Regions from separate parts of the Homo sapiens genome. Here regions 1, 3, 4, 5 and 6 are each reported to be linked to region 2. The links are microRNA targets in miRTarBase. Many come from high-throughput screens and were not tested one by one. Region 2 holds a microRNA gene; each other region holds the end of a gene's coding sequence. Distances are between the middles of the regions.
Evidence for each region. Region 2 holds the annotated microRNA hsa-miR-29b-3p (UAGCACCAUUUGAAAUCAGUGUU, at 1,961-1,983, shown strand). A microRNA usually pairs through its seed, bases 2 to 8, with sites in the 3' UTR of a target mRNA and lowers its output. Matches are read on the target gene's strand: a 7mer-m8 pairs with bases 2 to 8, a 7mer-A1 pairs with bases 2 to 7 and ends in A, and an 8mer does both.

Region 1: miRTarBase lists TET3 as a target of hsa-miR-29b-3p. Seed matches in the 3' UTR shown: 7mer-m8 at 501-507, 7mer-m8 at 1,518-1,524, 7mer-m8 at 1,532-1,538, 7mer-m8 at 1,549-1,555, 7mer-m8 at 1,919-1,925, 8mer at 3,697-3,704 and 5 more.
Region 3: the mRNA of PDGFB is a reported target of hsa-miR-29b-3p. Seed matches in the 3' UTR shown: 7mer-m8 at 4,196-4,202.
Region 4: the mRNA of P3H1 is a reported target of hsa-miR-29b-3p. Seed matches in the 3' UTR shown: 8mer at 462-469.
Region 5: the mRNA of COL5A1 is a reported target of hsa-miR-29b-3p. Seed matches in the 3' UTR shown: 7mer-m8 at 3,767-3,773, 8mer at 3,726-3,733, 8mer at 3,392-3,399 and 7mer-m8 at 3,012-3,018.
Region 6: miRTarBase lists ELAVL1 as a target of hsa-miR-29b-3p. Seed matches in the 3' UTR shown: 7mer-m8 at 3,795-3,801.

What each region holds. Positions count from the first base shown.
Region 1 is chr2:74,101,729-74,106,728 of GRCh38, forward strand. TET3 (tet methylcytosine dioxygenase 3) reads left to right here. Exons shown (of 12, transcript NM_001287491.2): 12 at 1-5,000. The coding sequence ends at 448. Among named protein-coding and RNA genes, the nearest start is that of BOLA3, 44 kb to the right of the region's middle.
Region 2 is chr1:207,799,347-207,804,432 of GRCh38, reverse strand. It overlaps MIR29B2 (microRNA 29b-2), which reads left to right and starts at 1,910; the gene lies at 1,910-1,990. It overlaps MIR29B2CHG (MIR29B2 and MIR29C host gene), which reads left to right. Exons shown (of 6, transcript NR_135299.1): 6 at 1,771-2,915. MIR29C (microRNA 29c) reads left to right here and starts at 2,494; the gene lies at 2,494-2,581. RefSeq lists an enhancer at 5,039-5,086.
Region 3 is chr22:39,221,009-39,226,094 of GRCh38, forward strand. PDGFB (platelet derived growth factor subunit B) reads right to left here. Exons shown (of 7, transcript NM_002608.4): 6 at 4,687-4,839; 7 at 2,351-4,305. The coding sequence ends at 4,715. Among named protein-coding and RNA genes, the nearest start is that of PDGFB, 21 kb to the right of the region's middle.
Region 4 is chr1:42,741,928-42,747,013 of GRCh38, reverse strand. It overlaps P3H1 (prolyl 3-hydroxylase 1), which reads left to right. Exons shown (of 15, transcript NM_022356.4): 15 at 162-640. The coding sequence ends at 317. Among named protein-coding and RNA genes, the nearest start is that of CLDN19, 4.2 kb to the right of the region's middle. RefSeq lists a silencer at 1,630-1,830 and an enhancer at 4,819-5,086.
Region 5 is chr9:134,842,035-134,847,114 of GRCh38, reverse strand. It overlaps COL5A1 (collagen type V alpha 1 chain), which reads right to left. Exons shown (of 66, transcript NM_000093.5): 66 at 2,272-4,958. The coding sequence ends at 4,812. The region is part of intron 1 of LOC101448202 (a long non-coding RNA gene); the gene reads left to right. Among named protein-coding and RNA genes, the nearest start is that of MIR3689C, 4.8 kb to the left of the region's middle. RefSeq lists enhancers at 1,330-1,830, 4,142-4,976.
Region 6 is chr19:7,959,075-7,964,160 of GRCh38, reverse strand. ELAVL1 (ELAV like RNA binding protein 1) reads left to right here. Exons shown (of 6, transcript NM_001419.3): 6 at 354-5,086. The coding sequence ends at 678. Among named protein-coding and RNA genes, the nearest start is that of TIMM44, 18 kb to the right of the region's middle.

The DNA.
Region 1 (5,000 bases), not on the chromosome of region 2:
GGACGAGAACATCGGCGGCGTGGCCGTGGCCCCAGCCCACGGCTCCATCCTCATCGAGTGTGCCCGGCGGGAGCTGCACGCCACCACGCCGCTTAAGAAGCCCAACCGCTGCCACCCCACCCGCATCTCGCTGGTCTTCTACCAGCACAAGAACCTCAACCAGCCCAACCACGGGCTGGCCCTCTGGGAAGCCAAGATGAAGCAGCTGGCGGAGAGGGCACGGGCACGGCAGGAGGAGGCTGCCCGGCTGGGCCTGGGCCAGCAGGAGGCCAAGCTCTACGGGAAGAAGCGCAAGTGGGGGGGCACTGTGGTTGCTGAGCCCCAGCAGAAAGAGAAGAAGGGGGTCGTCCCCACCCGGCAGGCACTGGCTGTGCCCACAGACTCGGCGGTCACCGTGTCCTCCTATGCCTACACGAAGGTCACTGGCCCCTACAGCCGCTGGATCTAGGTGCCAGGGAGCCAGCGTACCTCAGCGTCGGGCCTGGCCCGAGCTGTCTCTGTGGTGCTTTTGCCCTCATACCTGGGGGCGGGTTGGGGGTGCAGAAGTCTTTTTATCTCTATATACATATATAGATGCGCATATCATATATATGTATTTATGGTCCAAACCTCAGAACTGACCCGCCCCTCCCTTACCCCCACTTCCCCAGCACTTTGAAGAAGAAACTACGGCTGTCGGGTGATTTTTCCGTGATCTTAATATTTATATCTCCAAGTTGTCCCCCCCCCTTGTCTGGGGGGTTTTTATTTTTATTTTCTCTTTGTTTTTAAAACTCTATCCTTGTATATCACAATAATGGAAAGAAAGTTTATAGTATCCTTTCACAAAGGAGTAGTTTTAAATTCCATTTAAAATGTGTATTTATTGGATTTTTTAAAAGCGACAATAGTAATGGTAAAGGATGGGCAGGAAAGGCCAGTAGTGCTCCCCCGCCCAGTCTCGCTGGGTCTGGCGAGCCAAGCCCCTCGGGCGCTGGCGAGGTCCTCAGCCATCTGCCCCTCGAGAGCCAAGCGCGGACGGTAGCCACCCAGTTCATCCCTCCCGACATACACCCCTTCCCTTTGGGGAAGGGAGCCTCAGGACAGCTTCTGTCCTCTCTGATAGGATGGGAGAGTCTGCAGAAAACCATCTGGGGTCCCTTTTCCAGTCCCCGGCTTGGAGTCGAAGGGCAGATGCACCCCAGGCCAGCCCCACGAGATGCTGGCATAGCTTTCCCCAGAAACCAGGTTGGAAGTAGATGGCTTCAAGCTTGCTAGTCTCCACACTGAATCCTCTGTCCGTTATTTATGGAGTCACACGATGTCATGGTTCACTAGGCAGCACCTCACGCTGGAGCTGGAGTGCGAGGTTCTTAGGGGCCGTGCCCACCATGTTGCCAAGCCAATGCATGCTGAGCTGAAGGAATTTGTCTTAGTGGCAGTTTTTTAAAAAATGCCCCCAAAGTCTATGCTGATACTGAAAAAGGGCTACTGTATCTTTAAAAACAGGAAGTTGAACCCAAGCTGTGAAAAGCCAGTGGTGCTCTGTGCATGGTGCTGTGCGGAGCCTGGTGCTGTAGTGTTGTGCTGGGACTTTCTTGACTCTTGGGCAGGTCACATCCTACAGGAGCTCAGCAGACCAGTGTAACAACAGTTAATGCATCTATCCTGATCCCTGAATTTCCACATTGGACAATGGTGCATGCCTCACACCTGAGCCTGCTTCCTCCATGCTGTCATTGGGTTCGGGGGCCTACACTTAACAATTTTAAAGTGCAAGAGTCAAACATTTTCAACAGGTTGCTATAATTTTCCTCCCTAATTGGTGCCATTTCTCCATTTGATCATTTTCTTTTTTTCCTTTCTCCCCTCTTCATCCACTTTAATATAGCTGTTCTGAAATTCTGGTGCATTCATTCGGTTCTTTGAAATGAGAATGTGGTGCTTAATTTTTGTGACGTTGTCGAGAGAGGTTGGGCCTGATGGGAGCAACACTCATCATCACCAAGTCAAACTTTGTTGGAGTGTTGGTTTTTCTTGTGATATTAGCAGAAATGATCTCATGCTAGCCATGTGGATGTGTGTGTGGTGAATGGGGGGCTTCATCAGGACACACAGAGGGGAATGTGGCCACACGGTGGATGACCACCAAGCCCTGAGATGAACAGGTATTTACTGAGCAGTTGTATTCAGATATGGGTCTTCATGAATCATGTTTAACAATCAGATGACCGCTATAGGCAAGTTCCTGAGCTTCCGGGTGCCTTGAGTAAGAGCTGAGAACCGGCCTGCTGGGTGTTTACTGTATCTGTTTGGAAGCACTGGCGGAGGGTCGTTGTAAGATGTCCTGAGCATTTATGTGGTCTGGTTTTAACTGTAAATAGTGAAAGATTTTTTTAAGCACTTTTGCCTAGATTTAAACAGCAACTTGAAAAAAAAAGTATGTTTTAACATGTAATTGTGGGAGAAATTGTAAATAGTAGCCGAATATTTAATGTGCTTTGTCTATCCTCCACTTTTACCATATTCTGTAAAGTTGCATTTATTTTACAGGACAAAAAAATGAAATATTATTGCTTTTGAAATAAATACCCAAGAGCTTATCAGGACTTAGAATTATTCAGAACTCAGATTTATAGGAAAACCTCTGACCTTCAGTTTGACAAGCTAAAGGAAGCAGAGTCTTTAATGAGCATGCTAATTTTCTAGTTTTGAGGAAAAATTGGGTCCTTTAAATGCTATTTTGCTTATCGCATCAGTACTTTTATGCAGGTCTCATTTGACTCCGTGCTTAGGTAGATGCGGGGGTGCCTTGAAAACTTCATTTTAAATGATCTTAAGCAAGAAATACAATATTTTACGAAACATTTGGAGAATGTGACCGTCTGTATGACCCGTGGAAGCCCCAGGTTGGCTGTTGGTTTGGAAGGTCCCGAGTGTAACCCAGGTGATTCTGATACTTGGCATGTGTGAATCTTCCTGATGTATGTTAAATAAACTCTTCCCCTCATCACCCTTTGGTAGGAAAGCCATTAGATGAAAGGAGAAACCAATACAAGCTAAAAGCATGCGACGTCTGTCCCCCAGCCCAAACAGCCTTGGTTCATCAGTTTCTGCAGTAGGAGATAGGCTGCTGAGAGGTGAGTCAAGAGGCAGTCTCCATTGGATGTCCCCACTCCCCGCAGAATGGCGTTTCCAGAGTTAGGCGGTGTGGTTGCCGTGCTCAAGCCCATGCTGATTTGTACACTACATGTCTAACCTACCTCAAATCTCAGTCATTAAAATTAGCATGCTTTAGACATATATTTAAAAAGTAACTATGCACAGCTCTTTATCCCCCCCTTGCTGCTGAAGCTTTCTTAAAGAGAAAAATCAAATTTTTATTTTTTACTGGCACTATCATTTTTTAAGTCCTAAAGATGATTAACAGACATTTTTATCATGAGAAGAAAAATAAAGCCATTGCAACTAAAGAACCTAACAGCATGACCAAGTTCGAAGAGTCATATTATAGCAACGGAAATCGATGGCGTCTTAGTCATCTCCCCAGTGTGCCCTGTCCACGGACACCATCCACGTGCAGTGCAAACATTTGGTTCCTTTTCTGCTCTGTTTTGTTTTCCCTGCCTGTTGCGTGCAAGGGAAGTGCTTGTAAAGTTCTGTGCTACGAGATTTTTAAAATAAAAATCGCTTCGCAGCAGGTTCTCACAAAATAACTGGTGCTAGCTCAAGAAATCATCATCTGACCATCAGAAATCTTGACTAAAGGTGTTGCATGGATTTGGGGGTCTTTCGGTTTTTGGTTTTGGGTCTGGCTTTTAGCAGGGCCAATGTTTCCCACACCCCGGCTTCATGGGTACTGCTTTGCCTTCTCACCAAGGTGACGATGGTGTGCGTGGAAAGAGATGATACCCCACCGCCCCCTCTTGGTCCTTCCACCAGCCTCTTTTGGGAACAGTAGTTTGCAGAGCAAGGGATTTTTAAAGCGCTAAAGCAAGGAAAGAAGTAGCAGAGCTTAACTGCTTTGTACCACACAGCAGTAGATGTGCAAGGACGGTTGACAATGAGTCGATGATAACCTAATTTCATTGAGAGAAACCCAGCCAGACTTGCTTCTAGAGGTTTAATCACCATGAGATCTCAAACCAAGGCAAAGCTGGTGGAAAACTATATGATATCCCTGACGTGCCTCAACCAGTATCTCTTTCCTTTTGTTACTGAAGTGTGTTTTATGGACTAGGAAGCATTTTTATGAATTGAAATAGTCTAAATAAAATGGTGCTATGGTGTTTTAATGTGACTGTCCCTGATCCTGTCTTGCTGAGGTGCTATCAACGTTCTGAAACCACAACCAACCAAAAACAAGGTGGGCTCCAGTCTCTTGGCTTTTTTTTTTCCCTCCCCTCTTTTGGTGCTGTCTTAGACCCGTTTACCGTGCTATAATCTGCTCTGAGCAGTGTTGTGTTGTGTTGTATTGTTCTTCCCTTGGTGGCCAAACAAAGCAAGTCGAGAAGGCAGCTATCTCCCTTTCTGTGATCGGGAGTGGGCCTGCCTGGCTTGGCAGGTGCTTTTTGGTTCCACACCTGTCTTCTCAGGCTTGATGTGAAAGAAAGGGCGAAGGGTTTTTTGAGTTTTTGTTTTTGAGGAAGGGGAGTTGGGTACTTCTGCCTCTCCTAGCATGATAGGCATTCTCATAGCCAGGGACAGATTTTCTCCTGCAGCCCAGGGTGCTAAGCAGACATCTCTGGGAGTCCCAAGGGCACACCAAGGGAGACCAGATGGATCTCCTTCCTCCCCTGGCACTGGCTGGGACCATGGTGGGCAGGGGCTTCATTCTCTGACCCAGCGTTGCTTCTGCCTCTCATTGGTAACCCCTTATGTTCGGACTAAAGGAAGGAGCTTTCTTTGCTCACTCGATGCCACTGAGGCTGCTTTTTAGTTGGTGCTAACCTAAATTTCTTCTTGGGTCCACAGAAGTTGATGTTTTAAAAACTCACCAGGAAGCTCCATTTTGTGTCATC
Region 2 (5,086 bases):
CTGGCGAGGACCACTTAACCTTCTAGCAAGGGCTGGACTCAGGGAGGCTTTCCTGAGCTGCGGGGAGGATGACAGGTTCCCTGGAGTGGTGGTGGGTGGGGGCGGGGCTGAGGGGTGGTAGCCAAGGGAGGGTGAAGGAGAGTATTCCAGAAGAGACAACAGCTTAGGCAGGCAGGACCTCGCCATGGAGGAAGGTGCTTTCTGATCACTGCGGGACACCTGTGTGATAGCTCATAGGGAGGGGGTACTGGTAACTAAAAGTTGATAAGGAAGAGTGGCTAAAATGAAAAGCAGAAAAGTGAGAATCTCATCAAATCCCCTCATTTGACAGGATTTGGACTCCCAGTAGTAACTGTCCTTAAACACTCACTCCTGACCTTACAACCCTGGCTGTTACCTGGTTAACAAGCCCCAGGTGTTGGCTACAGGTGTCATCACTGAGAGCCCTTGTGTGCAGATCTGCCCCAGCTCTCCCACCTGTGACTGAGGCTAGCAAGTCCCCCGTGGGCTGTAGAGCCTAGCGCTGGTGTCAGAATCGCTTGTTGCAGGTTCATCTTCAGTGTCTTTCCCACAGCCACATGCTGGGGAAAGACGGCAAAGGCGCTAGAGGAGCAGGAGAACAAAGCAAGCTGCCCCAGACCACCCGGCTTTCGCAGAACCCAGATGATGCTCCTGTCTCCCCCTAAGTATAACGTGTTATGTAGTCAGTATGATCCCATTCAGTGCAGAAGTATCGCCTAGGAATTTCCTGCCCCACCCACCCTGTTTTGTTCTTAATGAAGTTCAAGAACAAAATGAGATGATAGTCAAGTTATGGAGCAGGCTGCAGTGGATACAAGGGCAGAAACACAGTCTTTGGAGTTAGACCTGGGATCTGCATTGATTGGTTGTGTGACTGCAGACAAGTTATTTAGCCTCATTAAGGATGAATTTCTTCGCAAAAATTGGAATAATACCTGCCCCATACGACTGTTGTGAGAATTAAACACCGCAACTTTTGATGTTCAAATTCTATTTCTTCTCCTTCTAGCAACACATACTGTTAGTGCCAGGAACCATAAAAATTATAAGGCTGTATCTAGAGGCCTGAAAGGAAGCTAAAATATACAGTGTCTACTCTGTCTCTTTTCTCTTGGTTATGGTATCAGAGGAAATACACATATTTTCTTAGCTTCAAACCACCAAAAAAGATGATGCAGTAAGGAGATGGGAAATCTAATTTGGAATACAGTGTGCAAATCTTATTTTCAAGCAGACTTTGAAAATAAAACTCAATTCTTACGTTAGAGGATTATCTGCTTAATACAATTATAGGGTACCAGTTTTTGAAGTCACATCGGGGTTAAATAAGATTGCAGGTTCATGGGGTCATATTTGAATGTTCTGATACTTACATATGGGGTGGGAAGGAGGAATGCATGCTTTTCTCAAGTTAAGACACATAAAAGAGTTGTCCTGGCCCAGGTGAGACTCGCCTTTGTGTAGCAGCTGGAGCTTCATTCCACAGGCAGATAGGGTGCTTGTGTCCTGATGAAGTAAGAGAATATATCTGGAAACACTTTGTGTACTGTGAAATACTATACAAATGCAGGGCAGTACAAATGTAAATATTAATGTATTTTAGTAATAATTTTAGCTTTTATTTCATCATATATAATAATTTGTAGTGACTGGTGTGAAGTTAAATAGAATTAACCTAGAATTAATGAGTTTTGTATTGCTCTCATCTATTTGAAGCATCAGCTGTGCCTTTCATGTTGCCTTGTGCAGCCCTGTGTAACCTCCTCTGTGCCTTTCCCATGGAGCACTGTGTCATATCACAAGTAGAACTACAAGAAGATATTTCTCCTCAGGGCAGAGGCTGGGTCTTCCGATTGAATCTCCCTTCTTTCTTCATTGAGATCCTCTTCTTCTGGAAGCTGGTTTCACATGGTGGCTTAGATTTTTCCATCTTTGTATCTAGCACCATTTGAAATCAGTGTTTTAGGAGTAAGAATTGCAGCACAGCCAAGGGTGGACTGCAGAGGAACTGCTGCTCATGGAACTGGCTCCTCTCCTCTTGCCACTTGAGTCTGTTCGAGAAGTCCAGGGAAGAACTTGAAGAGCAAAATACACTCTTGAGTTTGTTGGGTTTTGGGAGAGGTGACAGTAGAGAAGGGGGTTGTGTTTAAAATAAACACAGTGGCTTGAGCAGGGGCAGAGGTTGTGATGCTATTTCTGTTGACTCCTAGCAGCCATCACCAGCATGAATGTGTTCGTAGGGCCTTTGAGTGTGGCGATTGTCATATTCTGTTGGATAACAATGTATTGGGTGTCGATTGTCATGGGGCAGGGGAGAGGGCAGTACACCTGGAGGACCATTTTGTCCACATCGACACCATCAGTCTGCTCTTAGAGGATGCCCTGGAGTATTCGGCGTTGATTGCGGGGCACCCGAAATCAGACTTGCCACCTGGACTGTCGAGGTGCAGACCCTGGGAGCACCACTGGCCCATCTCTTACACAGGCTGACCGATTTCTCCTGGTGTTCAGAGTCTGTTTTTGTCTAGCACCATTTGAAATCGGTTATGATGTAGGGGGAAAAGCAGCAGCCTCGAAGCCTCATGCCAACTCTGGGCAGCAGCAGCCTGTGGTTTCCTGGAAGATGGATGGGCAGAGAATAGGGAAGGAAGATCATGCTTTTCCCTACTAACTTCTGTAACTGCATGTATGATACATTATTGCAGAGGTAAGAGATAGTTTAATGGATTTTTAAAAACAAATTACTATAATTTATCTGATGTTCTCTAGTTGCATTTTGCTGAAATGTAGTGCTGTTCTAAATTCTGTAAATTGATTGCTGTTGAATTATCTTTCTGTTGAGAAGAGTCTATTCATGCATCCTGACCTTAATAAATACTATGTTCAGTTTATCATGTCTGTGTTTTTCATCTATTATTTCCCATTCATAATTCTGTGATGATAAGAAGTGGGTCCTGAAAAATTAATTGGCTGTGCAGATCTTGCCTACTTCATAAAGAATTTGAAGTAGGTTACAGCCAGCCAGACATTAAAAATGAAGCCCATTAAGAGAAGAATGAAATTCTATGAGCCAAGAAATAAAATGAGAGAAAAGATTAGGGAAGAGAAGAAATGTTGAAGATCAAGGCTGAGGGATGCTCCCTACTGAATGGGAAAACTCCTTAGTTCCACATGGGCTGTAGACACAGCCCTTCTGCCAGCAACTGTTCCTGCAAGGAACTGGTGCTCAACTAAACATACTGTCACATGGTTCCTTGAAGGGGCACAGCACTGATTTCACTTGCATTATAAAAGATTGAGTGGTGCTTTTGACTATTAGTTTATGTCAACACTTCAAAACAAGATGAGCCAGTTTTTTTTTGTTTTTTTTTTTTGTTTGTTTGTTTGTTTTAGACGGAGTCTCACCCTGTCACCCAGGCTGGAGTGCAATGGCACTGTCCCCGCTCACTGCAACCTCCGCCTCCCGGGTTCAAGCAATTCTGCCTCAGCCTTCCGAGTAGCTGGGATTACAGGCGTGGCACCTCCACGCCCAGCTAATTTCTGTATTTTGTAGTAGAGACGGGGTTTCATCATGTTGGCCAGGCTTGTCTCGAACTGCTGACCCCGTGATCCACCCACCTCAGCCTCCCAAAGTGCTGGGATTACAGGCGTGAACCACCTCGCCTGGCCCAGTGAGCCAGTTTTGTAAAGCTATTCAGAGATTAGCCAGATTTGATTTGATAGGGGATCAAGCTTGTAGGATCTTCAGGAAGGCGGGCTGTGGCCCCTTGATCAGGCTTTTTGCACAGGAGGTGCATGACTATGAACTACCCTCAGTAGAACTCTTTTAAGCCAGTGGCTTGCAATAAATGATGGCAAATCAGCCACCTAGGAAGCCATTTCTAAGCCCAACCCCCTGCCACAGTCTTCCTCTAGATGGCTGCCCTGCCCAGTGGGCTGAGAGTGGGGGGCGGAAGTAGCATTTGCTGGGAAGACTTGCCAGTACATATGTTGCACCCCCTCACTGCAGCTGCAGTGCTATTTCAGGCTGTTGATGGAAGAACCCATGTTCTAATCCCCAGGATGTGGTGGGAAGACCCTAAGTGGTGGTGTTAGTTAAGACCCTAAGTTATATTGTTTTGTTCACTTCCCACTGAGATAGGCTACAATAGTATTAAATACCTATAGGTCAGACATTTTTGGGGTCTGTTGTACTACCTACCAATTAAACAGTTTTTGATCCGCCCACCACGCTCAAAGCTCCAGCCTAGGTGTTGCAAATACAGACGACAGATTTTTGCTCTCAGGAGGCCCTGATTCCAGTCCTCAAACGAGTAAGTGTGAAATTGAGTGCAGCATTAAAGCACAAAAACAATGATTTGAGACGTCTTTTCTATAAAAGAAGTTTATAGCACTCTCATTGAATGCTTAAATAGTGCCACACTGCTAAGTCGTGAGAAGCAAAATGTAACTGCGGTGCCTCAAACAGGATTATTTTGTTTTATTCATTTGGATGCGGACAGCTCTTTATCTAAAATTGCCATTCTGAGGTGGTTTTGCACAATAAATTGGTAATTATGTAGACTGTTTCTTCCAGAGACAGCATCTTGAATCGGGTTTATGAAGCCATGCTATCAACCTAGGTAGAAAATGCTTTGTAGGACATGGGTCCTGCTTATCTAAATTTTACCAGATTTTATTAGCTGTAAATTTATAAGCGGGTCTTGGTGAATAGATAATGAAAAAAATATTGAGTGGGGAGGCTTATTAGACTGACAGCACCTTCAAGACTCATGCAAGTTGGACTGGAAAATCCCACCTGTGGAAGTAAAACACTGATGAGTCCTTAATAAATATGGATGAGACAAGTCAAATATTTGGCCAATTTAGGTGAAACAGAAATAAGTCTAGAACTGGACAATTATTTGTGTAACATACTGGCCCAGACCTTCACTTTGAGAAGCTGGTGTGTAGTTTCAGGAGAGTACCTGGCAGACTAGTGTGTCCATACTTCGATGGAGCTTGAGAGTTTTCCTTGAACACAAAAGTTGTATTTTTGAGTTTATTCTAGTATGATGGTGCCCTA
Region 3 (5,086 bases), not on the chromosome of region 2:
GTGTGGAGCTTGCCAAGAAGTTGAAATATTTTATCTGTAGTGACACACTCAGAGTCTTGCATTTTCCAGCCACACCATAGTGTGTGTGATGAAGACCAGCCAGGCAGGCTGTGACTTGGAGCCAACATACTTGATTGCTCCAATAACAGATTTGTATGTTGCTTCATTTGACAGGCTGGTCGAGTGCCTACTAGGTACGAGGCACTGTTCTAGGCTCTGAGGACAGAGTAGTGAACAAGGTAACTCCAGGTGGAGTTTCCATGGGGAGTGGAGAAGGGAGATGAGGAGAGATATACACGTGGAGTGAGCCAGATGAGGCCAGATGCTACAGAGATCAACAGAGCAGAGTGAGAAAGGGGGGCTTGGGGCAGGGGCAGGTGGGACAGGATGGGTGTCACTTGCATGGATGCCTGAAGGCAGCATAGGGGTGAGTCACAGCTCCTCTGAGATTGGGGAGAAGCAGGGACTTCCCCAGGATCATCAGTAACAATGTGGCCGGGTCAAGGCTGTCACCCAAGTACATGGACAGGTGTTGGGGTTCTGGGGTTCCTGAGCTGACACTTTAAAATACTGGAAACACACCAGACATGGTGTCAGCAGAGGAGGAAAGGGTGGAGCTTGGACCTAGCCACCAGCAGCTGCATGCTCTCCCTAAGCCTGCGTGCCCTCCCTAAGCCTGCGTGCTGTCCCTGTCCTGTCTGTTATCTCCTTCATCCCTCAAAAACGGTCTTATGTGTACTAGGAGCTCACGGATAGTTTACTTTAGTAGCAGTAAATGTTTCACATTTTATTATTTTACAAAAGCAAAAATTGCTGTCCAAAGAAAGCTACAGCTCCACGCTCTGGTTGAAGGCTGAGGGCCGGGACCAAGAAGACACCTTGGGGAAATGAGGATCTGAGTGAACAGAGGAGAGTTCCTAAGAGTTCGCAAGGTGAAGCTGAGTGCCTGAGGAGGGTAGGAGAGAAAAGGACCAGCCCAGCAGCCATGTTCTCTCTCTCCCAAAGTAAACGGGGCTATTAGGATTAGGTTCAGTTGCAAGGGACAGAAAACCCAAAACCAGAGTAGCTCAAACAGAAAGAAGTTTCTTTCTTCCGTGAAAGCTCCTGAACAAGGCAGCCCAGGTATTGGGGACCCTGCCTTCCATCTTGCTCCATAATCCTCAGCATGTGGCTTTCACCTCATGGCTCAACATGGCTGCTTGAGCACCAGACATCACATCTGTATTACAGCCAACAGTGCAGTGGAAAGGCATGAAGAAAAGAATGCTTTCTCTCCAGCAAAGGGGTTTCTGGAAGAATGCCATTTTAGCCTGGCAACATTAAGACCTTGAAAAAGCCCACCGGGCCCCTGGAAGGCCCACGGACTCTGCTGCGCTGCTGTATGGGATGGCACCCAGGAAATGGGCACCCAGGCCTCGGAAGTGCCTGCAGCAATCCATGGCACAGACCAGCTGTTGGTAGCTGCCAGGATGCTGCACGCACTGGGCTCTCCAGCTGACTTCTGATGTCCGTCTCCTGGTGGAGTTGTCTCTTCCTCCTCCCAGCCAGATCCTTCTCCTGTGCCCTGGAAACTGAGAACACTGGGGATTTAGGGGAGAAGGGAAGGCCCCAGTCACGATTGGGCAGGCAGGGGTAGGAGCTGCCAGGTAAACAGATCCCTCTGATGTGCACGGCCCACTACCACCATGGGTAGACTCTACTTCCTCAAGGGCAGGGCTAGGAACCCCAGGATGAATTCAAATCAAATGACTATAAAATCTCCTGGCCGTGACAGGCACATGTCAGAGGTTCAAGAAAGTGAGTGAGTGAAGGAATGAATCAGTCCATTGATCAATCAATTGCTGGGAGCCCAAATGTTATTCAGTCTAACCTCAGCCACATTGTTCCCCAGTTTTCGCTTACACACTTCCAGTGACAGGGAGCTCACTACTTCAGGTGGCAAAATGGTTTTAGTTTTAGATTGCCCTTATGAGCCAGATCTTTAGCTTCTGGGTCCCTCTCAGCCCCAGTCCACGCTGCAGGTGGGACCTAGAATACATTTAGCCTCTTTTTTATGGGCTGGTACCCAAGTCTTCATGAGCAAGAGAAAGCGCAGAACACAGGAGCTTGGAGCCCACGCACCTTTCCTCATCCTCTCTGGCCAGAGTGGGTCTGTGACTTGCCCAAGGCCACACAGCTGGCTAAGGGCTAAGCCAAGACCAGACCGCAGACCCGGCTTTCCACTGTTTCCTTCTAAATCCCACATCCCCTCTGGGACTTCCTTCAGTGTTCCCCACAGTGGGCACTCCCTCCCCACATCCAGCCCACCCCACGATGCTGAGGATCCACTTCCTCTATGGAGACCCTCAGGCTGCAGAAACCCATCTCTCGTCACTGCCAGAGACACGCACAAGTCCACGTGTCAGGAGCTGTGCCAGGACCAAGACCAACAGAGTAGCCTGTGTGTCTCTTCTTCCCGCCAGACAGAGGCCTCCCCCAAGTTGCAGGCCTGCGTGTATGTGCACGCATGTGTGAGCATGTATGTGTGTGTGTGTGTATGTGCACGCCAGTGTGTGAGATCACGCCTGAGGCTCCCAGAGTGAGAGGAACACGCCGCAAGCTGTCGGCACATCCTGCCAAGGCAGAAAGGTTAATTGTCACGCACGATGCCAACAGACAGACCTCCGGCGGATTCATTTGGTTTTGTTTTGTGGTTATTTTTTTTTACAACTTTAAATACGGAATATAAATAAATTTTACATTTAAAAAATAAAAGGAAAGCCCCCAAAAATATAATCACCGACTTTACAAACTGAAGGAAGCAGGTTTTGGAAGGCGGGAAGGGGGAAAGTGCAGTAGGTGGGAAGGGAGGTGGGAGCTCAGATCCCACCCCAGGGGGTCTTGGGGATCTTTTCCCTTCTCTCCCCCATTCCCAGCCCACGAGCTGGTTTCCTAGGAGGAGCCACCAGAGGTGGAGCTCAGAAGGATCAAAGATGGGGAAGTGTGCAAGCAGGGAGGGGTGCGGGCAAGAGGGCTGCACCCTCCCTTGGAGACCTTCTCCCAGGTGTCCCACACCCACCTGGAAGGGCAGTTGCTGGAGCAGAGGACTTTGGGAAATGGAGGTCATGTGGACAGCAGTGTTGCCTCCCTGCCCCTACCACAGTCTCCCTCCTATTTGGCCACTCCAAGCCACAGGCTGCATCAGGGGCACAGCCAGTCCACAAGGAGTCTTTGTGTGAATTAGGAAAAGGATCCTTTTCCTCTTTACCTACATCTGCCAGAAATTGTCATAATAAATATACAAATCAGCTTTATCTATGATGTGAACAGTGCTCCCTGCATACAATGTCCTTGTGCAGTACACACCCTGCACAACCTTACATGGCAGTCGTGGCTGGGTTGGAATATGATGAGCAGGTCCCTTGCTGCCCTGGCCTCTAGTCTTCTGCCCTAGAGAGGAGTGACTGGGATCATCTGGGGCCTTAATAAGGGGTTCAAGAGCCCCTTGGTGGAGCAGACTGAAGGGCCAGGACAAGAGGAAAATGCAGGGTGGAGGTAGAGAGATGAAAGGAACCAGAGGAAGAGGTGAATCAGAGTGGAGTGTGGGGAGGAAGGGGTGGCAGGAGGCAGGGGATACCCAGGTCACCATCTACAGCCACCTCAACAGCAAACTCCATCTCTAACCCACCTGAGAGGGCACCCAGCCACTTGGTGTGCTGGCCACACCCACCAAGAGGAGTCCACGTCTTCAAAACGAAAACGAAAAGAAGCCACTGTGCACAGAGGCACCAGGGAGACGAGGTGACTGGTGTTTGGGCACCGTGGGAGGGGTTTTCTCCAGTCTGTGTGCCCGTCTGTGGTCTTAGCCATGGAGTCCGAGGCAGCCTGGCCTGCCTGGAGGTGCCTCCCCTCAGAGCTGGCCAGGGGTTCAGGGATCAGGCAGGCTATGCTGAGAGGTCCTCAGGGCTCCTCAGGACAGTCCACAGCGCTCAGGTGTGGCCCAGGCCAGGTGCAGGGGAAGGAGCCCGTTTCCCCCAAAGAGCGACCCCATCAGTCTCTCTCACACTCTTATCCCAAGTTCTTGGAGTTAAGGGAAGAAGATGGCGATGGAGTTCAGTCCTTCTTTTTCTTCTTGAGCTGCTGGGCAAGACGCCGGAGGCCGCTGGGAGGAGACCCGCTGATGGAAGGGTGGACGGACACGTGGAGGGGTGGGGGAAGCACCATTGGCCGTCCGAATCAGGCATCGAGACAGACGGACGAGGGAAACAATATTATCACTCCAAGGACCCCATGGGGGCAATACAGCAAATACCATATTAAATAACCCTGCAGGCCAAGCAGAGAGACACAGGGGTCAGAGACAGCCTAGAGGGTCCATCCCATGTTCATATGTCCCCGATGCCAGGGGCAGGGAGCTGGGGTCAACTAGCCACCCCTGATTTCCAGCAATGCTCAGGGCTGGGGGCATTGAGGGGCTGGGAAGATTGAGATTTAGACCTCCCATCCTCTTAGGGCATGCTGGGACACAGCTGGGCTGGGGTCTCCAAAGCCCACCACCCACCCTGCCCCAGCTGATAACTGGACAGGGAGGACCAAGGCTCAGAGGCTGGATTTTCTATGGAAAAATCCTTTCCCCTGACCCCATCCACAGACCACAGAGAAGAAAACACAGGATTCTGGGCCTCAGTTGCCCCGCCTGGCCCTCACCTGCCCACACACTCTCCTGCCGATGCCCCTAGGCTCCAAGGGTCTCCTTCAGTGCCGTCTTGTCATGCGTGTGCTTGAATTTCCGGTGCTTGCCCTTGGGGGGCCGGCGGACTCGCACCGTCCGAATGGTCACCCGAGTTTGGGGCGTTTTGGCTGCACAAGAAAAAGAAAGACCTCGTCAGCATGTGGACCATTGGGGAGGTCTCTCCCCACTGACCAAGGCCTGCCATGGACCTTCTGGGCTCAGGAAAGGGACAGGAGGGGAATCTGGACCAGGGTCCTGGGTTTGGATCCCAACTCCACTGCTCACCAGCTGTATGTGCCTTGGGGACAATGACTGAAACTCTCTGAGCCTTGGCGCCTCCATCTGTGGAATGGGGGTAATAAGACTGCCCACCTC
Region 4 (5,086 bases), 170 Mb from region 2:
CCCACTTCAGCTGTCCTTTTCCAGAGAGTAGGACCTGCTGGGAAGGAGATGAGCCTGGGGCCATTAAGGAACCTTCCTTGTCCCCTGGGAAGTAGCAGCTGAGAGATAGCGAGTGTCTGGAGCGGAGGCCTCTCTGAATGGGCAGGGGTTTGTCCTTGCAGGACAGGGTGCAGGCAGATGACCTGGTGAAGATGCTCTTCAGCCCAGAAGAGATGGACCTCTCCCAGGAGCAGCCCCTGGATGCCCAGCAGGGCCCCCCCGAACCTGCACAAGAGTCTCTCTCAGGCAGTGAATCGAAGCCCAAGGATGAGCTATGACAGCGTCCAGGTCAGACGGATGGGTGACTAGACCCATGGAGAGGAACTCTTCTGCACTCTGAGCTGGCCAGCCCCTCGGGGCTGCAGAGCAGTGAGCCTACATCTGCCACTCAGCCGAGGGGACCCTGCTCACAGCCTTCTACATGGTGCTACTGCTCTTGGAGTGGACATGACCAGACACCGCACCCCCTGGATCTGGCTGAGGGCTCAGGACACAGGCCCAGCCACCCCCAGGGGCCTCCACAGGCCGCTGCATGACAGCGATACAGTACTTAAGTGTCTGTGTAGACAACCAAAGAATAAATGATTCATGGTTTTTTTTACTTGGTTTGTTCAGACAATGGAAATTTGCCCATTCTGTCCCAGAGGTCTCACTTGATAAAAATTGCTCTAGGCAGGACCCAGTGGCAGGTGTGGGACGAGAAGTCCTGGCTTGGCACCTGGCTCAACCACTTGCTGTGCAGCCACAGGCCAGACACTTAACCTTCAGCACCTCGGGGTTGTCATCTGTATAATGGGGATCATAGTCCTCCCTCTGCTCACCTTCTGGGGCAGCTGTATGGCCCAGATGCAATATCGGATGTGACAACACTTTTGTAAACGGTAAAGCTCTGGGTGAATGGTTGGGATTATTGTTAATCCTCTTCTGGCAGGGAGCGGCGGTCAGCAGTGCTCTGGCACGTCACCCCTATGTCAGCCACATGCTTCCTGCTCTGCCGTCTGGCCTCAGTGTCCTGTATCTCGGCCTCCCTGTGCAGGAAGACACACTCTAGGAAACACTGGAAATGGAGATTCAGCTCCTCTGGCTACATCCCTGGTACTAGGTCCAGAGCTTTTACTGTGCTTGAGATGCCACAGGGCGTTGAGTGTAGGAACCTGCACATGAGTGTTCACTTCTTCCATCAATCAATATGTATTTACTGAGCACCAGCTAAGTGCCTGGTGCTGGGAACGTGGCAGTGAACAAGTCCCCACCTTCATACAGCTTGTATTTTGTAGGAGAAACAGATAACACATGTAAATTGTGTGTGTGTGTGTGTGTGTGTGTGTGTGTGTGTAAAACCCTTAGAGGTAGAAAATAAAACAAGTCAGGGTCCAAGGTGGAGGAAAAACAAGGAAGCCAATGTGGCGGTGTAGATTGGTCAAGAAAGAGTATGGTGACATTAGCCAGGAGACGTGTCACGTGCCTGTAGTCCCAGCTGGACGCTGAGGCAGGAAGATCGCTTGAGCCTGGAAGTTCGAGGCTGCAGTGAGCTATGATCGCCCGACTGCACTCCAGCCTTCACAAGAAAGCAAGATCCCAACTCTAAAAACAAATAAAAAGGAAAGTGGTGGATTGTCAGGGGTGTCTGGGGGCCTATTTTTAAAGTAGAGCCAACAGGCATTGCTGATGGATTGGATGTGAGGTGTGAGAAAAGGCATCAAGAAGAAGCTAGGCCAGGCTCAGTAGCTCCGCTTGTAATCCCAGCAGTTTGGGAGGCGAAGGCCAGTGGATCACTTGAGTTCAGAAGTTTAAGACCAGCCTGGTCAACATAGGGTGACCCTATCTCTAAAAAAAACTTGAAAAGCCAGGCATGGTGATGCACACCTGTGGTCCCAATACTAAGGAGGCTGAGGTAGGAGGATCATGAGCCCAGGACGTCAAGCCTGCTCCATTGCACTCCAGCCTGAGTGACAGAGCAAGACCATGTCTCAAAGAAAGAACAAGGCTGGTCTTTGTGGCTCACGCCTGTAATCCCAGCACTTTGGGAGACTGAGGTGGGTGGCTCACCCAAGGTCAGGAGGTCGAGACCAGCCTGGCCAACATGGTGAAACCCGTCTCTACTAAAAATACAAAAATTAGCTGGGTGTGGTGGCAGGCGCCTGTAATCCCAGCTACTCGGGAGACTGAGGCGAGATAATCATTTGAACCCAGGAGGCGGAGGTTGCAGTGAGCCAAGATCACGCCATTGCACTCCAGCCTGGGCAACAAGAGTGACACTCCATCTCAAATAAATAAATAAGAACAAAAACAAAAATTTCAATTAAAAAGTTTATTGGGCTGAGCACAGTGGCACACACTTGTAATCCCAACACTTTGGGAGGCCAAGTCAGGAGATCACTTAAGCCCAGGAGTTCAAGACCAGCCTTGGCAACATTGGAAGACCGTATTGCTATTAAAAAAGAAAAATTGTTTTTTAGGAAACGATTATTTTTTGAGCTGGGAGATAGCACTGCGTGTTAGTTGGCTGGTGGGAATGATCCAGTCAAGACAGTCACTCCTCCTTTTATCATGGTTGATCCCCGCCATCCTATTTGGGTGGCTCACTCGGCGTACAGAGAGGACCACGTTAGTGCAAAAAGCATGAACTTTACCCACACACTGAGCTGGGTGACACTCCCACTTCCACCATGTGGAGTTGTGTGACCTCCAGCAAGTTAGGGAACCTGTATGTGTTTCCTCACCAGCGGAATGGAATCACAGTCCTTCCCGCGATGGTTGAGCGGATGAACAAGGGAATGCTCACAAAGCAACCAGCACGACACTTAGCCCATGGTAGACATCAACATTACAGAAGACTACATCAGCCTAATTCTGGTTTTCCAGAAGTTTCCACATCAAGGCAGATGACTTTACAGTTTCAACTTATGCTAAACAGATACAGGCAGCAGCCTCTTAACTGAGCTCACAAAAGGCCAGATGTTTTCAAGGCAGCAGGCCCAAGATAAGTGTATATAGAGTGGGGCGAGTCCTCCTGGAAGCATGGGGTGATGGCAGCCCGGCTGAGATGCGACTGTGATTTCGGTCTGCGTTTGGTAACGCACATGCAAGGGCGCGCGAGCAATGAGAGGATGACTGCTTGAGAAGAAAGGAGAGAGCCCATGGGAGGGTTGGAGGGGATGAAAGGCAACTCCTCAAACACAGTGAAGATTTGGATGTGGAAGACGCCGCTGGTCTCTGGCGCCCCAGGCATCTAGCAGAGCTCTCAGCAGGGGCATCAAGAGACAGATGCTGTACTCAGTGTGGTTAGCACAGGTAAATGGGACAGCCACATGTGTCACAGAGGCGCAGGGCCCGGGCGAGAGGGTGGAACACAAAAATGTGTCTGCTAACACAGTCTCAAGGTGCTCAGGGACCTTAGGAAGGAGGTAAACGACGCAATAAGTGCAGTGAATGGAAATATGCCAAGAGTATGATGGGATTGCAGATCAGGATGCTTAGCCGTGCCTGGGCAGGCAGAATCGTTGGGGGTGGCCACACAGCTGGCTGTATTGCTTTCTAGCTGTGCGCCCTGAGGCAAGTAGTCTCCATTCCAAGCTTATAGTTCCGGGAATCTCAGACTCTGAGTTGGGAGGGTGATAAGAACTCCAAAATTTCAAATGATGATTGCAGAGAAGGTGCTAGATTGCTAAAGACTGAATCGGACCCTCCTAACTGACAATGAGAGAGGGCGGTGGAAAGGTCTCCGATTTTTCACAGGGAGGGAGGCAAAAGCATTGAATCCTCATACCAATCAGTCAATGATCAACACATACCTAGCAAGGCTGGCTCTCGGTCAGGCACTGTTGCAGAGGAAGTGGCAGTGGGTCTTCAGCCACAGGCAGTCTGCCCACTCCCAGAGTGCGAAGGCTGGAGGGGCAGACTGTGCGGGGAGTCTTTTTGGAACAGAGCTTTCATTAGTCACAGTTCTGCAGGCGTTTTATGCTTTCAAACAGCCTTTCTCACCTATCATCTGATCCTTGTAAACTCCCTCATGCATCAGACAGGGCAAGTGTTATTATCCCTACTTTTCAATGGAGAAACCAGGCCCAGGGAAGCTGAGGATTTGGCTAATGTCCCATAGCTTTTCAGTGGCAGGGGTAAAGCTAGAACTGTAGGCTTCTCATAGCCTGAGTGAAAGCACAGGGTGCTGTGCTACCCCAGGGCAGTTTCAGTGAGCTCTTAATGGAGGCTGGGCTGTGACCCTGAGCCTTCCTGTTCTCCCCGCATGTCTGGGAGTCATTGGACTGCAAGGGGGGGCACCAGGAGTGGTAGGTGTCCTGGGTGGAGAAGCTGTGCCAGGTTAAGGAATGCCGCTCCAGAAGCAGAATCTGAATTCCAAAAGGCTTTGGAACAAGAATGAGGGAAGGCCGTCAGGGTAGGAGAGAATATTTTGGTAGAACAGACTCAAAGCCTCAAATAACAAAGAGAAGGGATAAACAGAAGCACTTCAGAGGAAGAGGAGAGCACTGTTCCGGATCACGAAGAGGCTCTGGGAACACCCAGGATGGAGGAGCATGCAGGCCTCCTGCTGGCTCTGTGGCCCTGTGGACCCGTGGCTCCCTTTCTCTCTTTGGCCCTCAAATTGTCAATGGAGGGGGCCGCAGCCCATGGTCTCTGAGGCATGCTTCTGACTGGCCTCTGGGCTCCTGACCCAGGTCCCCCTGAAACCAGAATGACCCCTGGATCTTCCCTACAGAGAGAGCGCCTGCAGATGGCGGGGAAAAGGGGCCAAGGCCCAGCGTGGAGAGAAGGAGGACTTTGCCTTTGGAGGAGCATATGCGGAGCAGCTACCCAGCACCAGGCCCCTGCCCTCCCCAGACATCGCTTACTTTAACGGACCACCACAACTCCATGAAGCAAACCTCCCATTTAGAGTGAGGACCCTGAGGCACCACAGTCATTCAGGTCACCCCTGGGGAGCATCTTGTCACTGCCCGCAGCCCCCTTCAATCTGGACCTGGTGCCTCCCTCAAAAAGGGAGGAGTGTGGGAGAGAGACCACAGGGGCCAGCACCACACAGTTTCAA
Region 5 (5,080 bases), not on the chromosome of region 2:
AACTGCCACTGAAGGAATGGGGGAATGAATGGATGAATGAAAGAGTGGATGGATGGATGGATGGATGGATGGATGGATGGATGGATAAATGATGAATAGATGGATGGATGGATAGATGAATGGATGGATAGATGGATGGACAGATAAATGATGAATAGATGGATGAATGGATGGATGAATGAATGAATGGATGAACAGATGAATGAAAGGGTGAACGAATGTGTGGATGGATGGATGGATAAATGATGAATAGATTAATAGATGGATGAATGGATGAATGAATGGATGAATGAAAGGGTGAATGGATGAATGGATGGATGGATGGATGAATGGATGGATAAATGATGAATAGATGAATGGATAGATAGATGAATGGATGAAAGGGTGAATGGATGGATAGATGAATGGATGGATGAACAGATGAATGAATGGATGTGGTGGCAGAACTCCTTGGGGCCAGTGGGAGGAGGAAGGCAAGGAAGGCAGACTGGGGGCATGCACCCTCCCTCCAGGGTTCCTTCTCCCCAGGAAACTTCCCAGAGCTGTCACCTACAACCCCGAGAAATCGTGGGAGTCCCCTTGCATGACGGGTGCGAGGGGAGTCCCACAACTCTGGGCCACAACTGTGCCATGGCTCAGCCACCGGCCGAGTGGACCTCAAGCCTCCTGCTGCCTGGGATGGTCAAAGGGTCATTGTGAGTCTGAGCCACTGACTCCTCCAGACCAGGCTGGGGCCCCTCTGCAGGATGCCTCTCCGGAGGACAGATCAGCTGCCCACCTGTGCATTTCTGGCCGCTCCACCAGCAGGCACCACGCCGACTGTCCGCCCACCTGCCTTGCTCTCTCTCCTCTTCTGGATTCGATGGCAAGGACCTTCAGACCCATCAACCTTTGACGACTGTGAGCGTCCATTGCCGGAGTCGCTTTCCCAACTCAAATGCATTTATTAGGCGCCATCCTAATCTACTCCAGGATTTTAAGAAAGGGGTGGGCTGCTCAAATTCATGACGACTGAGTTTTAACTGGCGTTTGTCCCTCAAGGCGTCTCTCAATGTGGTCTTTAAACAGTTGATGTTGGGAAACGGTTGCCTCTTCCAACTCTGCGCATCCTTGATTCGTGGGCCGTTTCCTTTCATTCCTGGCTCTTTCCAGAGCTGGTCTGCCACGTGGTACCTTGCCACATGGAATTCAGGCATCCAGCCTGCCCACCATCATTTCATGTCAAGCCTCCTCCCCAAGGGTTGCAAGTTATGAGTTCATAATCTACCTCTGAGCTATCACAGTGATCAAACAATTGTACCCAATGTTCTGCCTGTGGATGACATGGGTCAACAGCCTCCCATCCTCTCACAATGGCCCCAGCTTCCCTGGGCAATGCTGCAGACCACCCTTCTGTTGTGAAAGTCGCCTCGTCCTTAAGCACCTACACAATTCCGGATCACCTAGGTTACTGGCTCTCCGGCTTGAACGTGCAGCAGAGTTGCTCAGAGACCTGCTTTCAGATGATTCAGCTCTCCCACAACATTTGGGCCAGCAGGTCTGGGATGGGGCTCAGGGACTGGCACTTCTAACAAGGTGGTGCCATTGCTGCCATTCCCCGGACCCTGCTGGAGACCCACTGGCCTAGGTTATTCGGCAGAGTAATCAACAGTCCCTGACATCAGTGGCTTTAATAAAACAAAAATGTGCTTCTCCTGCTCCTGCTACCAGTTCTCACAAGCTGGCAGGGGGCTCACTCAGGGAACCTGCTGGTGACGTAGCCCCTCCACGAAACATGGCTGGTGCTGTGCCCGAGGGAACCACACCTTCAGACCGGAAGAGGCGAATGCCACGTGGGCTCAAGGTCATCGGCTGCAACGAGCCCCGTGCCTTCCCCGACCTCTAGCCACAAGGAGCTAGGGAGTCTAATCCTGCTACACAGCTGGAAGGGCAGTGCTGGAGAGCTTCAAGAACATTCTCGCAGGGTGCTGACTGCCAGGAGTGAAGAGTGAGGACAGTACACGGTGGTGTGGACACCCAGCAGTGGCTGAAACTCACTTCTCGGGCTAGTGCCCGGTTACGTTCTAACATCCTCCCAAGGGCACAAAGCTGTCCATGCCAGCCTTGGCCACTCCTGAGGGACAAGCTCCACCTAAGGACAGCCGGGGCCATCCCTTCCTTTCTCTGGGTGGCCAGTGTGGTTATCTCCAGAGCTCCTAGCGTCCTGGGACTGTGTGCAGTCCTGTCTGGGAGGGGCCTGGCCACACTTAAGAAGAGAGTCACTCACATCTGTTTACGGTGGAAACACCCAACTCGATTTATTGAAAAACTATTACAGTTAATTATTCCTTTGTTACACAAGTTTAGAATATTTTAAGATATCCTTTCCTGGGCATTACAGTTAAAACTTATGACATGTCTAGCGGATTTTTTGAAACCGTACAATGTGTCATTTGACATTGTATTTCAAAAGGCCTGATGTCCTCGAAACTTTATCTTGGGTTTTTTGCTTACCATTTTTTTCTTTTTGCCAGCGTTTGTCCAATTATATATATTGAGAGGAAAAAATAAAATTACACCAAAAGAATTTCTGCAAATATAAGAAGTAATTTTATTGCAATATACTGTGGCTAGAGTGGTCTGGGGAGAACGGGACACATTTTGAAGTTCAGTACAAATTATAACAACTTTGAAGGGACCACAGAGGAAGAAAATGACAGGAGAAAAGGACAAATTGGATGGGATGAGAAATGAAAACAGAATCACATGACCTAGACGCAGTCCACGGGGGTCGCGGGACAGTCCTCGGCTATGGCTTTTCTTTTGAAGAGATGAAGGTGACAGTCATTGGCACATGCTGGCATCCTGGGCTCCAGAGACTCTCCAAGCCAGACTTTTCTTTGGCAAGAGCGAGACTTACTTTCCAGGGAAATTTGGAAAATCCACGCTGGCGGTGTTTTGTTCCTCCTGGGTGGCTTGTTTGTGGCTTCCTAAGCTGGAACTGCATTCTGGTGGTGGTGGGGGTCGGGGACAGCACCAGAGCCCCGCAGGCTCACCCCAAGGGCCCAGCCTGCATTTCCCATGGTAGAAGGAAAAGGCGCTGCACCCGGGCAACTTTTCACAGTGAAGAGATCGCCTTTCCTGGCTGCCCCTCGGGTCCTCCTGCCCACAGACGGCAGCCCCCCGACCTCGATGGCCAGGAAAGGGTTCCCCAAAGGGGACCTCACCCGCCCCGAGCTCTGGAGCCGCTGACGCTCGCATCCAGGACATTTGAGATGGGAATCCAAATAGGCTACTTGGAAAAGACGTGCTGCAGGCAGCCCTGGAGAGACTCATGGAGTTCATTGTACATTACTCCATCTACCGAGGCAGCGCATGGCATGACTGAACGGCTTGGAACAAACACAGAAATTAGCACCACAAACATTCAGGAACCAAATATAATCTGCTATGGTCACACCACAGACAATGCAGGAAGAGGCTTTTTATTGCTTGTGTGTGTTTTCAAATCAAGTAGGCACAACCCAGTCCTCATAACAGCCCTCGGGAGTGGACGCACCGGGGCGGGAGAGCGCAGGAGGGAGTGTGCTTGGCTATCCTGCCCAGTGGAAAGGAAAGTGACGTGCATTGATCTTAGAGTCCTTGGCAACAGACTGTGGAGGCAATAACAGGATAAAGAAAGCAGGGAGAACGAGGCATGGCCAGGGTCCCCAGTGCGCCTTCAAGGAGACCTTAAAACAGATAGATAGCACCACAAGAGAGCCACAAGAGAGAAGTGTAAAAAATAAGCACCAATTTTCATTGAGTTATCACCTACAAAAAATGTGGTTTCCCTGCCCTGGACATTCTCCCATCAGGCTCTGCGGGAAGAAAAGCGGAAAAAGGAAGCAAATAAAATTAATCCAAACCTGTGTTTTAGTCTTAAGTGCATGTAGAAAAAAGAAAATTATCAAATTTTTTCCCTATTAAAAAAAAAAAAAGTCTAGAGCGAATCAAAAACTGTCTGAAAAGGGGCACTGGTACCTGCTTTTCAATGGCAGCATAAATTCTTGCTGCCCCGGGGCAAACTTCCAATTTATTGCACGTTCTTGGCCAGGGCGGGGGTGGGGAGACTTCCTATTTCTAATCAGAACGGTACTGCAACCCAGAATCCATGCCTCGCCCATTCTGTCCGTGGGACTGAGACTGGGTTTCCGTGCATGATTGAAAGCCAGGCACACTTAACATTTATAACAATACAATACAAATATTTACTTAAAACTCACAAAAACATAAGCACCTTTAATCCATCGGGAAGGCACCTGCAGAATGACATTTGGCCTCTAAATGGATCGTGTTGGAGGTTGTTAAAAACGGAGGCTTTGGTGATGGTGGGATGACCTTTACGAGGCTTACCTTGGAACATTTTTTGAAGGTCAGGGGAAATACACATCTTCAAGTTGAATTTAGAAAAAAATATAGTGTCCAAATCTGGCAGTCCCTCCCCCAACCCCTGAGACCTATTCACGAACAGGATGGGTCGGGCGAGCTGGGGGGCTGGAGGCATGGCCCCGCTCCCGGGGCGCGTGGGTGTGGACAGAGCGTGGGGCGGGCCCAGGCGCTGGGGTGCAGCTAGGTCATGTGATTCAGCTCCAGGTGGGGGCGCGGCTCCTTCCCTCTGTTCTCTCCGGGCTGGGGTCCCACACCCCGTGGTGCCGAGGCGTAGATGAAGTCAGGTGGGAGGGGAGGGAGAAGCCTTCACTGTCCAGGGTCAGGACGTGCACGGGACACTCACGAACGAATGGCATGCTGAGGTCACGAGGTTGCTCTCGGGAGCCCGGGCTCGGCGGCTCCTAGCCCATGAAGCAAGCCGGCCCCACTTCAAATCCAAATTTCTGTGACGCTTCACCGAAGTCATTGAACATGATGTCCACGATGGGCACCTGCTCCACTTTGGGGGTGTCGATCTCCAGAACCGTCTTCTGGTAGCCTTTCTTGGTCTGGGGAAGAGGGAGACAGATGGCCGGTGGTTAAGAACAGTTGGGGGTCTTGGGGTTTACCAATCACCCCCCACAATCTGTCTGGCTCCAAAACCCAGGCTGGTGTCCTGTCTCCTACCCAG
Region 6 (5,086 bases), not on the chromosome of region 2:
CCTGCAGAGCATTTCTACCTTCAACGGAGGACCAGGAGAAGCGCCCATCATCTAAAATGTGGGGAACCGCAGGAACCCCTAAACAGAAACCCCGACATACACAGTGGGAGGAGTGGAGGGCACCAACCAGCCCCTCAGAGTCAGCTCCCTACAGAACAGGGTCCCGCCCCTCCACTACTGTATTTAATTCCTCCCAGGGTTTTGACCCATGCAGGTGTCTCAACCGTGAGCACCTCGTGGCTGCGCAGAGCGGGATGGGGCCCAGCGGCCATGGTCAGCATGCGTCCAGGCCTTGCCCCATCCCCAGGCCGCCTGCGCTGACCGTGGCCTGACGCTTGCTCTCTGTCTGCCAGGTTCTCCCCCATGGGCGTCGATCACATGAGCGGGCTCTCTGGCGTCAACGTGCCAGGAAACGCCTCCTCCGGCTGGTGCATTTTCATCTACAACCTGGGGCAGGATGCCGACGAGGGGATCCTCTGGCAGATGTTTGGGCCGTTTGGTGCCGTCACCAATGTGAAAGTGATCCGCGACTTCAACACCAACAAGTGCAAAGGGTTTGGCTTTGTGACCATGACAAACTATGAAGAAGCCGCGATGGCCATAGCCAGCCTGAACGGCTACCGCCTGGGGGACAAAATCTTACAGGTTTCCTTCAAAACCAACAAGTCCCACAAATAACTCGCTCATGCTTTTTTTTGTACGGAATAGATAATTAAGAGTGAAGGAGTTGAAACTTTTCTTGTTAGTGTACAACTCATTTTGCGCCAATTTTCACAAGTGTTTGTCTTTGTCTGAATGAGAAGTGAGAAGGTTTTTATACTCTGGGATGCAACCGACATGTTCAAATGTTTGAAATCCCACAATGTTAGACCAATCTTAAGTTTCGTAAGTTATTTCCTTTAAGATATATATTAAACAGAAATCTAAGTAGAACTGCATTGACTAACCAGTCCCTCTGGATGGTGGTGAACCTGAAGCATGCTTTAACCTCTAAGACTGTCTAACACGCGTTTCATTCAATGTCTCCACAGACTGGGTAGCAAAAAAATCACCTTTTAGTTTTAGTTTTTAATCTAAAGATGTTAGACAGATGCTGAGTGTGCGTTTTCTCAACCGCTTCAACATTGTAAGCGATGTATGCTTTGGTTGACAGGAAGTTCCTTTTCCAGGCAGGTCCCGTTGCCACCTCCTGCTCACTCAGTCCCGGGCTCTGCCGAGTGGTCCTGGGAATGGCGGCGGGCCCGTCCAGCGTGGGCCACCACTGGGGCCGGGGGCCACGGGCTGCATGCTGGGCGGGCCCTCCAGAGAAGGACACAAACGTGTTTCGTAAGCCCAGGCACCAATGGGAATGGACCAAAGAGTTTCAGGGAAACTCCAGTATATTCCAGAGTCAGATCTAAGCTCCAGGCACGCCTGAAGATGTGTTGCTACTCTGACATCCCGAGTTTCTGTCCACACATTGCATGCACAGCGCCCCACACATTGGATACTGTTGTTCACGATAATTTCTCCCGTTTTCCAGAGCATTTAACATAGCTTGGAGGCGTAAAATGGCTCTGTATTTTAATAACACAGAAACATTTGAGCATTGTATTTCTCGCATCCCTTCTCGTGAGCGCTTAGACCTTTTTCTATTTTAGTCGGATTTTGTTTTGGAATTTTGCTTTTGTATGAACACTCAGCAGAAAAGTACTTACTTCTTGCCAGTTATCTATTAACCAAAACCTTTGATTTGTAGTTTTAAAGATTAACCCTCAAAGTTCTCTTCATAACTGCCTTGACATTTTGGGTTGTTCTGTTCTGTTAATTTTCTTTTGCTTTTTTGTGTTTTTTGTTTGTTTTTACTTTTGCATTTAAGACCATTAAATTTGATTTTGTTTTGCTCGAATTTTGTTTTGTTTTTTATTTTACCTTTTCTTTCTTTTTGGCTAGGGAAGGTGCAGGTGGCCCAGCATTCAGGGAGGAGTCGTAAGATCTTAAGAAACCAATCCTTGCCTCAAGCAAAAGCATTTCTGAATCTGTGACGCAAGAATGTGCAGTTACAGGCTGGTGGCTTTTAAACCAGGAGCCCGGAGGAAGGGTGAAAGAGAAAGCCTGTGAAATAGGCAGGGCCAGATCACCCAAAACTCCTCAGGACTGGGATCTGGCGTTTATAAATAACTAGTTTACAGAGAGAATCACAAACAGGATAACTTAGTACCAGCAGTTTTTAACCTTGACGTGAGACTAAAACGTGACCGTAGGCTGTTTTTTAGTTATTGCTCTCATGAGATGATGGCTGTATTTATCTGTTTATTTATACCTATTTATGTATTTATTTATTGAAGTGTGAAATTGAGCAATAGGCAGGCACCACCGTCCCCAGAGCAGGTCAGCGTCTCGAGAGGCCCCTGGACAATTGAGGATGCCCATCCCCTCCCCTTTCCCTGATCTTTTACTGAGGGGCTGTGTGCGCGATCCTTGCAAATTGATGATGTTGCCATCCGTACCCAGGCTGTGTCTCATAAAAGTCGGCCTGGTGCCAGAGAGGACCTCCTTTCTCCCACAGAATCCCAGATCCTCAGGAAAAGCCAAAACCGAGGCCCATTGCCCGGATTCGACACAAAAGAGGGTCCCTGCTCTGTTGCCCGAGAGCAGTCTGCATCCTGGGACCAGAATGCTTTCCTGGAAAAAGAAGCCTTTCAGGTTTCCCTGGGCCAGCATCTTCTGATGGAAGGTGGGAGCCAACACCCTTCTGATGGAAGGTGGGAGCCAACACCCTTCTGATGGAAGGTGGGAGCCAACACCCTTCTGATGGAAGGTGGGAGCCAACACCCTTCTGATGGAAGGTGGGAGCCAACACCCTTCTGATGGAAGGCGGGATTCCCGCTTCTGAAACTCCCCCTGGAGTCTCACTCCCACACATGCCCATAGCTAGCATTCAACAGAGAACTCTGTCTTAAGCTTCAACTGTGAAAATGATGACGGGCTTGTAGCACCTCAGCTTCTTTCCTCGCCCCCTTTTATCTGAATCCTATCAATTATTCTGATGCTGGGACAGGTGAGAAGAAACTGTGAAGTATATGAGCCTTTGAAAGTTCCCTGAAGTTTCTCAGTTCAGGAACATTCTCATTGTATGTGGTCTCCGCTGTTTGAACAGCCTTCTAGCTAAAAAATTCCAAAGCCTTTATTTGGGAGTCTTAGCTTGCAAGCTTGTGGAAGGATTTAGCTTAACAACTGTCACTCCTGAAAAGCAATCTCTGTTCCATCAAGGTTCTAGTTGCTGGCCCTGTGTCCTCAAAGTTCATTACATCTTATCAAGGCCTGTTTGCAAAGGGGAGATCCCTTTTCTTAAAAAAGGCTCAACCCAAAAGAAACCATTTCTTAAAAAATTTTACATAGATCAGTTGTATTTCTATTTAGCAAAAATGAGTGCTCTGCTTTTATTTGGGAATTTCGATGAAAAAGCGTTCAGAGTAGATAATGTTCATTTATCAAAAATCTGGTTTGGGAAATACCAAAGAGGCTTTGATTGAATTCCCTTTTGACCCGTGTGTAACTTCCTCTGGTAGTTAGACCCCAGGCAGCTCCGAATTTGTGAACCTGCTTCCTGATGAATTCTCCCTTGTTCCCCCTTGGCTCTGCCATTATTTCGTTTTCAGTGTAATTTGCCAAGCCGCAGTTTTCTGTGCTGGCTGTGCCTCTAGTCGCAGCTCTGTGACTGATTCCCTCCCGGGTGCTGAGTCCCCTCCCCGGCCACCATCCTGCGTGAATATCCTGAAATTCATGGGCTTCCTCGGGGGCCCGCCCGCAGGTGGTGCTGGGTGGGTTCCGCCACCTTCTCCTGGAAGGTGAGCCTTTTCCTGGCCAAGGGCAGCTGCCTTAACCTCTGAGAGTCTGCGCTTGGCCTTAGTCCTGGAGACCCAGCCTCCAGGGACTGAACCGTGCTGCTGTTGGGAGCCAAGACCGGCCCTTTGGAGCCGGCAGCCCAGGGGTCCCTGCTGGATCAGAGAAATAGAAGCACCCGAAGACGGTTAGTGGCAATTCCTTGACCCGGTTTGCTTCCAAATGAAGGCCATTTGTCCACCAGGCATTGAAAAGACATGACTTACCCAGTCCGGCATCGGACTTGAAAAATCGAAATTGACATCACTCAGCTGTTACATTTCACATCCGATTCAGCCCCCTTTTATTTCCATGTGCTTTTCGCAGCCTTCCTGTGTTGGATGAAAGAGAATAAGAATTCAGCTGACAGGAGGCCTCTATCCTGTCCCTCCACCCCACCCTCCACCTCAATCCCCTCCCATCTTCCCCAGACCTACCTCACCTACTAGGACCTGAGGCAGCTCCTTAGCAGAGACCCCTGGGGTTTAGCTGACTCTGGGGGTCAGGGGTTCCTGTCCCCAAACTTCGCAAGACAGCCCTGAAGTCACAAGTGCTTTCTTTTAAGTGGCATTGGCAATTGGCGTGTAATGATGGCAGTAGAATCTGAATCTCGGATCCCAGGCAGGGTTCACATTTCCAAACCTTTTTGATTTCCCCTGACCTCTAATGGCTGGATCCTATTTTTCTACAACCTTTCAGTGACATCGTTCAGGTTTCTTTCTTGGCCATTTAAAAAAACAAATTTTTTTTTTCTCACTTGTAAGTCACCGCCAGTACCTAAGTTAGGCTAACGGAGACTTTGACAGGACTGGATTTTTCTTCCACCAGAAGAGAAGCCTTTTCCGTTGGTTTGGGGCCACCTCTTTGACCATGACCATGTGATGTTCCGTTTACAGTGACTTGCTTTGGGGGAGGGGAGGCTCTCTTAACCGATTCCCATGTTGTACAGTAGATGGTTAGACCTTTTGTATATTAGTGTGTTTTAAGTTATTGATTTGTTTTATATAAAATAATTTATTTTTCAGGTGCCATTTTTCATTTTAACTTTGTTTTTACATGGGTTTGTTTTCAATAAAGTCTGACACTGGTGTCCAAAAGTCAACAATAAAATGAATCCCATTGTGTTCTTTTGAAGATGCCTATGTAACTTTTAAGCTTTTTAAATTATTTTCAGAAAAAAAAAAAGAAAAGCCCTTATCAGTTTTCCATCAGCCCATTGCCT